Regions from separate parts of the Homo sapiens genome. Here region 1 is linked to region 2. The links come from fine-mapping of genetic effects on plasma protein levels. A gene starts in region 2. The other region holds a variant in brackets. All regions are shown on one strand. Distances are between the middles of the regions. Region 1 overlaps MAG (myelin associated glycoprotein). Region 2 holds the start of CD22 (CD22 molecule).

Region 1 (5,369 bases), 19 kb after region 2:
CCAACACGCCTGGCTAATTTTTTGTATTTTTAGTAGAGACAGGGTTTCACCATGTTGGCCAGGCTGGTCTCAAACTCCTGACCTCAAGTGATCCATCCGCCTCAGATTCCCAAAGTTGTGGGATTACAGGTGTGAGCCACTGCCCCCGTCCAGGAAGCTTTCAACATAGGAGTTTTGAGGGCACACAATGTAACCCCTAATACCTTTTTGGGTGAAAACCACCTAGTCAGGACCCCATCTTTCCAAATTCCTGGAAATACCTGGTTTGGTACGTGCCCCCCCATGGGTCCTGCATGGGTCCGCCCTCAATCTGGGAGGTCCTGCAGGTGACATGTGGGTTCCCCCCACGCTTCCCACCCCTCCCTCCACCCCCTAGCCACAGGAATTTGGACACACAGGACGGTGGCCACAGACAGAAGGGAGCTGCAACAGGACAGACTAGACAAGGCCAGCACTGCCGGGCAGGCCCGGACATCACCAGAGACCACCTTGACGCCTGACAGGGACACACGGACATGCACGCCAACCCCAGGGCCCAAGGAGGGCCCAGAGGAGGGCACACTGAGGCCCCCGGAACCTACCTCCTGGGGCACTCAGTGAGATTCCAGGGTAGAAACCTCTTTGGACTATTGGAGAAGGAAATGCAGTCACAGACACAGGCAGGGAGGGGAGGGGGCCCTTAGGCCCCACGTCCCATCGCCCCCTACACAGCTTCGGCCTGGGCACCTCCTCCCCAGCCTCCAGGTCCAACCCAGCCCTGGAATGTCCTTCCTCTCCTCCTGTGAGAGGCCGCTCCCACTCCCCTGCCCCTTGGCCTCACAGGCCTTTCCCAGGCCTTCAGTGTCCCTGGCATCCAGGTTCCCAGGCCAGCCTGGAGCCTGGTCCTTACCTCGTACTTCTCTGGTGCCCCAGAGATGCGGAAGTCGCTGCTGAACAGGACGGGAGGGTTGTCCCCTGCCGAGAAGCTGGGGCTCTCTGTCACGTTCTTTCTGCAGGGCAGGACTCGTCAGACCTCTCTCTGCCCTCCCTTTCTGCACCCCCACGTGTTTTAGGAGTTTGGCTCAGGGGACCTCAGAGTTCTCCCACCCATCTCTAAGATGTGGCAAGCAGCCCTTTCAGAACCACCAGCCTCTCCTACCCACACAGCCCATCCTTCCCACCTCTGTGGCCCCTGCCCGGCTGGGGACGAGCCACCTGGCCCCTGAGCTCTGCCGTTTTTCAGGACCCCCACCTGGATTCTCCAGGTTCCCCTCATAGGCTCTGGGTCTTTCTGCCCCTCTTGCCACCAGGATGTGGAGCAGAGGGGTTAATTTATTTCTCAGGACAGCTGATGTGTGTGTGCCACAAGAAAGAAACACGGCTGCAGCTGAGTTGGGCCAGGTGGGTATGGTTTGGGGCTGGAGAGGCTTTCTGTCTGTCTGTCTGTCTGTTTGTTTGTTTTTAGAGACAGGGTCTCTCTTTGTCACCTAGGCTGGAGTACAGTGGTGAAATCATAGCTCACTACAGCCTCAACCTCCCAGGCTCAAGCGATCTTCCCTCCTCAGCCTCCCGAGTAGCTGGGACAACAGGCACGTGCCACTAGTAGCTAATTTTTTTGTTTTTTTGTAGATGGGGTCTCCCTATGTTGCCCAGGCTGGCCTCTAATTCCTGAGCTCAAGAATCGTTCCACCTCAGCCTCCCAAGTAGCTGGGACTACAGTGTGTGCCACCATGCCTGGCTAATTAAAAAAAAATTTTTTTTAGAGATGTGGTCTTGCTATGTTGCCCAGGCTGGTGTCAGATTCCTGGCCTCAAGCAATCCTTCCTCCTTGGCCTCCTAAAGTGCGGGATAACAGGCGTGAGTCAACGCGCCCGGCCAAGGCCTATTTTTTTTTTGCCCCAGATGTGTGTAATCTTTGGGGCTTCTGGCGTCAAGTGGACCTGCTGCTGTGGCTGCAGTGGGGTACCTGGGCTTTCCCCACCACACTGGAGTGTGTAGGGGAGAGTTCCTAGAGATAGGGAGGCTGTCAAAATAGAATGTGGGCAAACAGGTCTCAAATGATGTGTGTAAAGGGCTCAGCCCAGGCCCTGGTGTGCCCCTGACCAGCAGGGGCTGGAATTAACAGGAACCCTCTCTCCTCTGTCCAGCTGAACATTCCCAGAACAGAATCTGCCTTCTCTACACTTATGGTGCTGCCTTCCCCCACCCACTCTGGGCCTCCATCTCCCACCAGGTCCCCTTTTTGGAGACTCCCATCCCCAGATCAGCCCCAGCTGGCACTCACTTCCTGCGTGTCTGGGTAATGTAGCAGACGATGGCAATCAGGATGGCAAAGGCGACCACGGCGCCCACAGGCCCGATCTTGGCCCACATCAGTCGATCTGAGGACAGAAAAGACCCAGGCGCCCTTAGGGCTATGGGTGGTGGTGACGACACCTGAGAACTTTGGAGACATGCTGGGATGACAGTCAATGTAGTCACACAGCCGGGGCATCCTTGCACTGACTGATTGGCACGGAGCCTCCTCGTGCCAGGGCAATCCCTTTCATGCTAGAGGGCCCTGGGGAGGGGCTCATGCCTCAAAGGTCCTAGCAAACTCGGGGCAAACTCAGGGCGGCTTCTCCTCTCCAACCGGAAAGGGAGAATTTGACCTTTCTGTCAATCTGCATAGCCCATGCTCTGTGGCTGTTGGTCAGCCTTGGGAGCTTGGATCTAAGACGTGCCCGCTCCCTCCTGTGGCTCCCACCCCAAGTCCACGCCACTCACGGGCTCCCTGGAAGGGCAGCTCCAGGCTCTTGGCGCCATAGAGGTTCCTCGCGGTGCAGATGACGCGGGGCGGGGCCTGGGCCTGCCCCCGCAGCGTGAGGATGCTGGTGAGCACGAGGCCGCTGCGCTCCGAGTACACGAACTCCCGCTCGCTCTCGTTCACGGTCACATTGCGCGATGGCAGCTCAAAGGCCACGGACGGCTCCGGGTTGGACTTCACCACGCACAGGCACTGCACCGTGTCTCGGGCTGCCGCGCAGTGGGACTCCAGGAGGAGCACAGGGGCGACTGCAGGGGCAAAATCAGGTCTGAGGGTGGCCCGGAGCCAACGCGAGGCCCGGCCCCGGAGACTCCTTGGCTCAAGGCAAGGCCAGTGTGGCCAAGGATGGGGGCGGTAGCTTC[C/A]TGTAGGGCCCTCCAATTTCCCCTCCTTTTTTCTCTGTCCTGACTGAGAGCGCCTTGACCTCACTACGACCCCGCCGGCTGCCTGTTTTCACTGCAAGCTTCACTAACCCACGCCTGGGGCCTTGAACATTCCCAGGCACTGATAAAGGTGTTTAGGTTGTTGCTCAAAACACTGAAAGAGGCCGGGCATGGTGGCTCACTGCTGTAATCCTAGCACTTTGCGAGGCCGAAGAGTGAGTGGATCACTTGAGGTCAGGAGTACGAGAGGTTACAGAATGAGACGCTGTCTCAAAAAAACCCCAAACAACAACAACAACAAAAATGAAAGAATGAAAGAAACCAGCCCCAGCCCTGGGCCAAATTCCTTAAACCCTCATGTAAACCCATACCCTGACCCTCACGGACGTGTCTGGGTAGACCCTCCCTTTCTCTCGCCGTAGCACTGTGCAAGTTCCCCTCCCAAATGCTTTGGACTGATGATCACCTGGTGGTTTAGTGCCTCTCTCTTTGGAATCCCAAGTGGCCTCATTTCGGGGTGGTTTGGGGTGCTCTCTTGGGGCAATTCTTCTGGTGCCACTTTTGAGGCGACTCTAGCCTCAGCTTCAGCCTGGACAGAGCACTATGTCACAGGGACGGGCCGTTTCTCCTGGGCCCTGGCTCTTACACTCTCTCTAACCTCATTCACCTTGTAATACATAAATCAGATCATGGCACTCTCTGCTCAAAACCCTCCTTCTGTTGCTCCGTGGTTCACCTAAAATACAAATCCTTTATTTTTTATCGTTTAGAGACAGGGTCTGGCCCTGTCGCCCAGGCTGAAGTGCAGTGGCAGTACTATAGCTCATTTGCACTCTTGGCCTCTAGTGATCCTCCCGCCTCAGCCTCCCAAAGTGCTGGGATTACAGGCATAAGCCACTGCGCCCAGCCACATTTGACCATTTTTGACATGCAGAAAAAATTTCACATAGTTCAATGTAATGTATACAGCAAAAAGTACGAATATTCACCCTAAATGAAATCAGTATAGATTACAAACAGCCTTGTGTTCTTTAGGCGAGATTTTGCTGTCAAATCAGGGTGGTGCCAAATTTGCAAAAAGCCTTTTGATTTTAAAGCTTTATGTTCAGAATTGCAGAGGACGGTAAATCTGTCATACTCATGATAGTTACTGGAGGGTTTTTGTTTGTTTTTGTAGAGACAGGGTCTTGCTATGTTCCCCATGCTGGTCTTGAACTCCTGAGCTCAAGCAATCCTCCTGCCTTGGCCTCCCAAAGTGCTGGGATTATAAGGCGCAAGCCACTGTGCCCAGCCCAAAATACAAAGTCTTTCATCTACAAGGCCCCTCAGGCCCTGCCTGACCACACACTCTCTCCTTCTCTCCCCCTGGCTTAGTCCTTTCCAGCCACACCGGTTCCTTGCTGTGTCTGAAAATCGTGGAGCTTTCTCCCACTCCAGGGTCTGTACGTTTCTCCCTCAACTTGGAACACTTCCATCAGTTGCCTGTGGAACGCCCTCCCTCGCTCCAAACTGGCCTCTACCCATGCGGCGTCTCCTTCTCTGACCACCCAGGGAAGCTGCACCTCGCTCCACGTATCATTCACTCCCTGCCTCACTCAGTTCTCCTCCCCAGCACTCACCCTCCCTGCATCACACACTTACATAAGGGGCCTCCTGTTTCCATCAAGACAGGGGCTTGCTCCTTCTCCACTCTGGGCCCCACACGTAGAAGGGAGGAACCATGGAACTCTCCCAGCCCCCGGCCTCCCCAGACCCTTGGGGCTCACACAGGCTTAGACTATCCCCTCCTTTCTGGCTTCCAGGCTGTGCTCCTTCCTTTCAGTCTGCGCTGCAGATGCCCCCCACTTCCTCCCCTAAAGCCGCCTTGAACCCCGGCCCTTCCTCACCCATGAGATTCCCTCCTGCCACTAGCACCAAACACCACCCTCCACCCAAAGTCACTTGGTTGAGCTTTGCTTTGCTGCCACTGGATTACAAAAATAGTACTGGTAGGTTTTTTCTTTCATTTTCCAAAACAGGAAATTATTATTATTATTATTGTTATTACTATGATTTTTGAGACGGAGTCTCTCTGTCGCCCAGGCTGGAGTGCAGTGGCACGATCTCTGCTCACTGCAACCTCTGCCTCCCAGGTTCAAGTGATTGTCCTGCCTCAGCCTCTTGAGTAGCTGGGACTACACGTGCGTGCCACCATGCCTGGCTAA
Region 2 (5,369 bases):
GCTCAAGCGTTTCTCTGGCCTCAGCCCCCCAAGTAGCTGGGTAAAGGCAGGTGCCACCACGCCTGGCTGATTTTTGTATTTTCAGTAGAGATGGGGTTTCACCATGTTGGCCTGGCTGGTCTTGAACTCCTGATCTCAGGTGATCTGCCAGCCTTGGCCTCCCAAAGTGCTGGCACTACAGGTGTGAGCCACCACTCCTGGCCGGGAGTTTTTTCTGAGTGTGCTGCACCTCTCCTTCAAACTGAGAGCCCTGCGGGGGCAGCCTCTCTCTCTTCCCAGAACTCCTTCCTTTCTTCCTTCCTTCCTCCCTTGCTTGCTTTTTCCCATCCATCCATTCATCCATCTCTAATTTTATAAACTTCCTGCCTGGCTCACAGGCTTTGAGTGGCACCAGACCACTGAGTGCTTTGAATGCCAGGCCCCGGGTAACGTGGAGCTCTCTCTGGTGCTACTCATCAAGGATTATACTCAGGGACAGACATGGTCAAAACTTGGTTTGAAAGACCAGGTAAAAAGGAATTCTAAAACCAGTAACAAAGTATGGGTGAGCCAGGCGCAGTGGCTCACACCTGTAATCCCAATACTTTGGGATGCCAAGGCAGGCAGATCACTTGAGGTCAGGAGTTCAAGACCAGCCTGGCCAACATGGCAAAACCCCATCTTTACTCAAAATGCAAAAAATTAGCCAGGCGTGGTGGCGTACACCTGTAATCCCAGATACTCATGAGGCTGAGGCAGGAGAATTGCTTGAACCCGGGAAGTAGAAGTTGGAATGAGCCGAGATCATGCAACTGCACTCCAGCCTGGGCGACAGGGCAAGACCCTGTCTCAAAAAGATAAAAAATAAACTAAAAATGTACAGAGCTGGTCAAACAAAACCTATCTGTGGGTTAGGTTCTGCAACTGTTGCCCATCTTTCTTTCTTTCTCTGCAGTGAGCTTGTCCTCTACCATCCCTGACCTCTGCATAGAGTTATATTTACATAGAGTTAAATTTAAGTCCCAATTTACATGATCATGGCCCTCCGTGCTGGCCCCCGGGGACCCTGAAGGATGTGACAGCAGAGTGTGTCTCCGGTCTCAGCACCAACCCAAGCCCCTCCCACTCACCTGCCAACATTTCACACGCATCAATGTTCCTCTCTCTGTCTGTTTATCTCCTCGGGCCACATGGCTCATGCCAAAGGCTGCTGGGTATCTGTTCATGGGTGTGCGGAAAGCTAAGCTGCTTGCCGACAGCAGGAAGGGGGTCTGGCCTGGGCTAAGCATGAATTTGGGGTGCAGGGTCTGAAGCTGAGGCAGATTCCCCAGGCAGAGCTGACATCAGCCCCGCAGGTACTCATCATGTCACATGCAAAAAACATCTTCAAGGTCACATACACTTGAGAAAGGCAGGGTAAAAGAGTTAAGTAAGATTCTTTTTTTTTCTTTTGAGACAGAGTCTCATTCTTCTGTCGCCCAGGCTGAAGTGCAGTGGTGTGATCTCAGTTCACTGCATCCTCTGCCTCCAGGGTTCAAGTGATTCTCCTGCCTCAGCCTCCTGAGTAGCTGGGACTATAGGCATGTGCCACCACACCCGTCTGATTTGTTTGTTTGTTTGTTTGTTTTAGTAGAGATGGGGTTTCACCATGTTGGCCAGGCTGGTTTCAAACTCCTGACCTCAGGTGATCCCCCCAACTTGGCCTCCCAAAGTGCTGAGATGACAGGCGTGAGCCACCGCACCTGGCTTAAGTAAGATTCTTTACTGCAGGACTTTAAAAACCTTTCAGTAAACTCTATCTACACCATTAATCTCTAGACATGGGGATTAGAGTATAGTATAATACATTGTCCATACTTCTTTGGCCATGGGATCTATTTTACATGTTCCATAAAAAACTTAGCAGGGTTGCAGAGCCAGAGTTCTTTGAAATCCCCTTAAGGTTACCTAAGGGGTAACAAGGGCTGTGGCAAGGACTAGACTCCGTTCCCTGCAGCCAACACTTGCCTCCAGGAGCCGGGCCATTGTCCCTCCTCTGCCAGCACCCTCCAGCCACAACCTGCTCTGGGACGGGCTGGAGCATCCCAGCATGAGTGGGAGATGGGCGCCTCCAGAGCAGGACTGTGTGCTGCCTCAAGGAGCTCCAGGAGTCTCTGGAGCACAGGAGTAGGGCCCCAGGCCCGGGAATTGGAAGGCTGAGGGTGGGGTGGAGGTTAGGGACAGCAGTTATTATGCACAGAGGCTCAGGACAGGGCCATGCTGTCCAGACCTCCTCAGTCCAGGCCTGTTGAGGGCCTTGCAGAACCTTGGGGCTGACCTCCCTGGCTCCTTCTTCCCTCCTGGGCATCCAATAACCTACCCTACTCTCAGAAGACTCAGCAGGCCTGGCAAGGAGGATGCTCAAGACAGGGGTCTGTCTACAACCTGTTGTAACACCGGTAAGAGAGAGCCAGGGAGGTCCCCACTGTGTTCCCAGCTCTGGGAGGTATGCCTGGCCCATAACTGCTGTTCCGTAATAACTTGCTTGTTGAATGCAAAATAAAAGCAAAATGATTTTTACCTGTTTCCGCGTGTCTTCCCTCTTCAGGGACCCTGGCAGCATCTGAGAGCAAAAGGAGAAGTACAGTAAAGTCTCTGGTGACAGAGGTTTCCCCTCCATGGCCACACCCCCTGCTTCTCTATGGCTCTGAGGGGGACCAAGCAGCACCGTGATCTGGGGAGTGGGGAAAAGAGACGATTGAGGGGGATGCGGGCTCGGAGTCAGATTGGAAGACTCGAATACGTATGGGCAGTTCTTCCTTTCCGTGTATGGGTTTGCAATATCAGATCAGTTTCAGAATGGGCTCCTCCACAACTCCCCCTCTACCCAGCTCTCAGGAAATGCGAATGACTCAAGCCAAGCAGGAGAACTGCAGCCCGCTGAAAAAGGCACAGGCCTACCTGAAAGTATTTGTAGTTTAGTGACACCATCCAGTTATTACCATTTCCACTCTTTTCATCATAGGCATAAATGGTGGGGAATCTGACCACCTACACTGAAGCCCCCAAGGGTTGAGGGAGGAGCACATAGATATTGAGGAGGAAAAAGATATCTCGGCCGGGTGCGGTGGCTCATGCCTGGAATCCCAACACTTTGGGAGGCTGAGGCGGGTGGATCACTTGAGGTCAGGAATTCGAGACCAGCCTGGCGAACATGGTGAAATTCCGTCTCTACTAAAAATACAAAAAATTAGCTAAGTGTTTTGGCAGGCGCCTGTAGTCCCAGCTACTCAGGGGGCTGAGGCAGGAGAATCACTTGAGCCCAGGAGGCGGAGGCTGCAGTGAGAAGAGATCACACCACTGCAGTCCAGCCTGGGTGACAGAGTGAGACTCTGTCTCAAAAAAAAAAAAAGAAAGAAAGAAAGAAAGAAAGAAAAAGAAAAGATATCTTGTAGGACTGGGCATGGTGGCTCATGCCTGTAATCCTAGCGCTTTGGGTGGCCAAGGCGGGTGGATTGCCTGAGCTCAGGAGTTCAAGACCAGCTTGGGCAACATGGTAAAACCCCATCTCTACTAAAAAAAAAAAAAAAAAAAATCCAAAAATTAGCTGGGTGTGGTGGCGGGCGCCTGTGGTCCCAGCTACTCAGGAGGCTAAGGCAGGAGAATCACTTAAGCCCGAGAGGCTGAGGTTGCAGTGAGCAGATCGCGCTGTGGCACTCCAGCCTGGGTGACAGAGCCAGATCCTGTCTCAAAAAAACAAAAAAGATATCTTGTAGGAAGTGTTATTGAATGGAGAGTCTTTAGGCTGAAACCTCATCACCTTTATAATCCTGTAGCCAGCGAGTGTCTCAGGAGCAGAACAGACAGCATTGGAAGCCATGCACATCCTACAGATGAAGAGGGATGCGCTGAGAGGTCTTCACTCCAGCACCACTGCCCTCTATGGGCAGCTGGCCATAGGGAGGGAAACAGAGAGAGGGAAGAACACCTTCTTCCAAAAGCACCGATAGGGCTGGGTGTGGTGACTTATGCCTGTAATACGCTTTGGGAGAGCAAGGCAAGAGGATTGCTTAAGGCCAGAAGTTTGAGACCAACCTGAACAACACAGCAAAACTCTGTGGGGCTAGTCAACAAAAGCAAAAAATGAAAAGTAGCTGGGCATGGTGGCCCATGCCTGTGGTCCAAACTACTTGGGAGGCTGAGGCAGGAGGATCGCTTGAGCCTGGGAGTTCAAGGCTTCAGTCAGCCATGATAGCACCACTGCACTCCAGCCCAGGCAACAAAGTAAGACCTTGTCTCAGTAAATAATAAATAAATAAAATGAACAAAAAGCAGTGATGTTCTGGAAAGATGGAGTAGATGTATTTATTTATTCTGCCAAGTATAACTGAAAACCTTGAACGTGACAAGACAAGCATAAGAAGACTGAAAGATGGAGAGAAGCAGACTGGTTAGGAACCTCGGGACTTAAGGAATGGTGGTGAATTCCCTGGGATTTCTCTTTGCCTCATATATCTCAGGCTGAATACTGGAGAAGCCAACAACTGAAAATGCCAAGGGGCACAAACAAGAAAAAGTCCCAACAGAACAAGTTCTAGCAAAACTATGCTTTTCTAGCCAAAGAACGAGGAAAGGGGCATCCTAGAAAGACAGAGCTCTTTTAGTCCATACCTGCTCCGCTCCATCCAAGTTCCATCATCACCCTTGTCAGCAAAGGCCGGATGGAAAACCTAGACATTCACCTTCACCAGGCTGTAACAAAGAACCCTAGGCCACTCCCATACTCAGCCAGAGTGATGCTAGAGTTGGAGCTGGGACATTCCTCCCCACTGGGATCACCCTCCCCCGATGTGGTGTTGGTGGAAACCATGTGGGCAGCCTGGACATCCACTGCCACCCCAATGCAGAAATGAGGCATTCCACCCGGCCCCATTGGAGTAGTGTCAAAGGGGGCCTGGTGGAGAGTTGGGACTTTCGCCACCACTCAGTGGTAACAAGCACCCCCCTCTCTCTGCCACACACAGTGTCAGTGAAAGCCACATAGGGAGCAGTAATGAAGCATCCCTCCCACTCCCAGCCAGGGAGTTGTCATGGATTCCTAGTGGGGAACCTGAACTTCTACCCTTACCAAACAATAACATGGAGGCCTCATCTCTCCCAACCCCCCAGGTTCAGGAAAGGCTGGATGGAGAACCTGGACTTTTATCCCTGTCTGGAAGCAATCAGGCAGTGCCCTACTTTATTTCGCTGGAGCAGTATAAAGGGAAGCCCACTAAAACAAAATATTTAAAGAAGATCCAGAATCTTATAACACAGTGCCCAGAATATCCTGACTTCAATGGCAAATCACTTGTCATACTAGGAATCAGGCATTCTCAAACTGAATAACAAAAGATAATTAACAGACACAA

What was found. PIP is the chance, under the fine-mapping model, that this variant and not a neighbour inherited with it causes the effect. Protein levels are from antibody-based Olink assays in UK Biobank. Linkage for the fine-mapping came from a reference panel and not from the study's own genotypes, which makes the PIPs less certain.
Region 1: its variant is fine-mapped to the plasma level of the CD22 protein (UK Biobank, PIP above 0.99).

Annotation. Positions count from the first base shown.
Region 1 is chr19:35,307,538-35,312,906 of GRCh38, reverse strand. MAG (myelin associated glycoprotein) reads right to left here. Exons shown (of 11, transcript NM_002361.4): 8 at 2,746-3,033; 9 at 2,264-2,360; 10 at 890-989. Among named protein-coding and RNA genes, the nearest start is that of MAG, 18 kb to the right of the region's middle. RefSeq lists enhancers at 460-959, 960-1,461. The variant C/A (reference allele first, on the strand shown) is at 3,148.
Region 2 is chr19:35,326,401-35,331,769 of GRCh38, reverse strand. CD22 (CD22 molecule) reads right to left here and starts at 2,583. Exons shown (of 14, transcript NM_001771.4): 1 at 2,540-2,583. RefSeq lists enhancers at 657-706, 1,837-1,886, 1,957-2,006.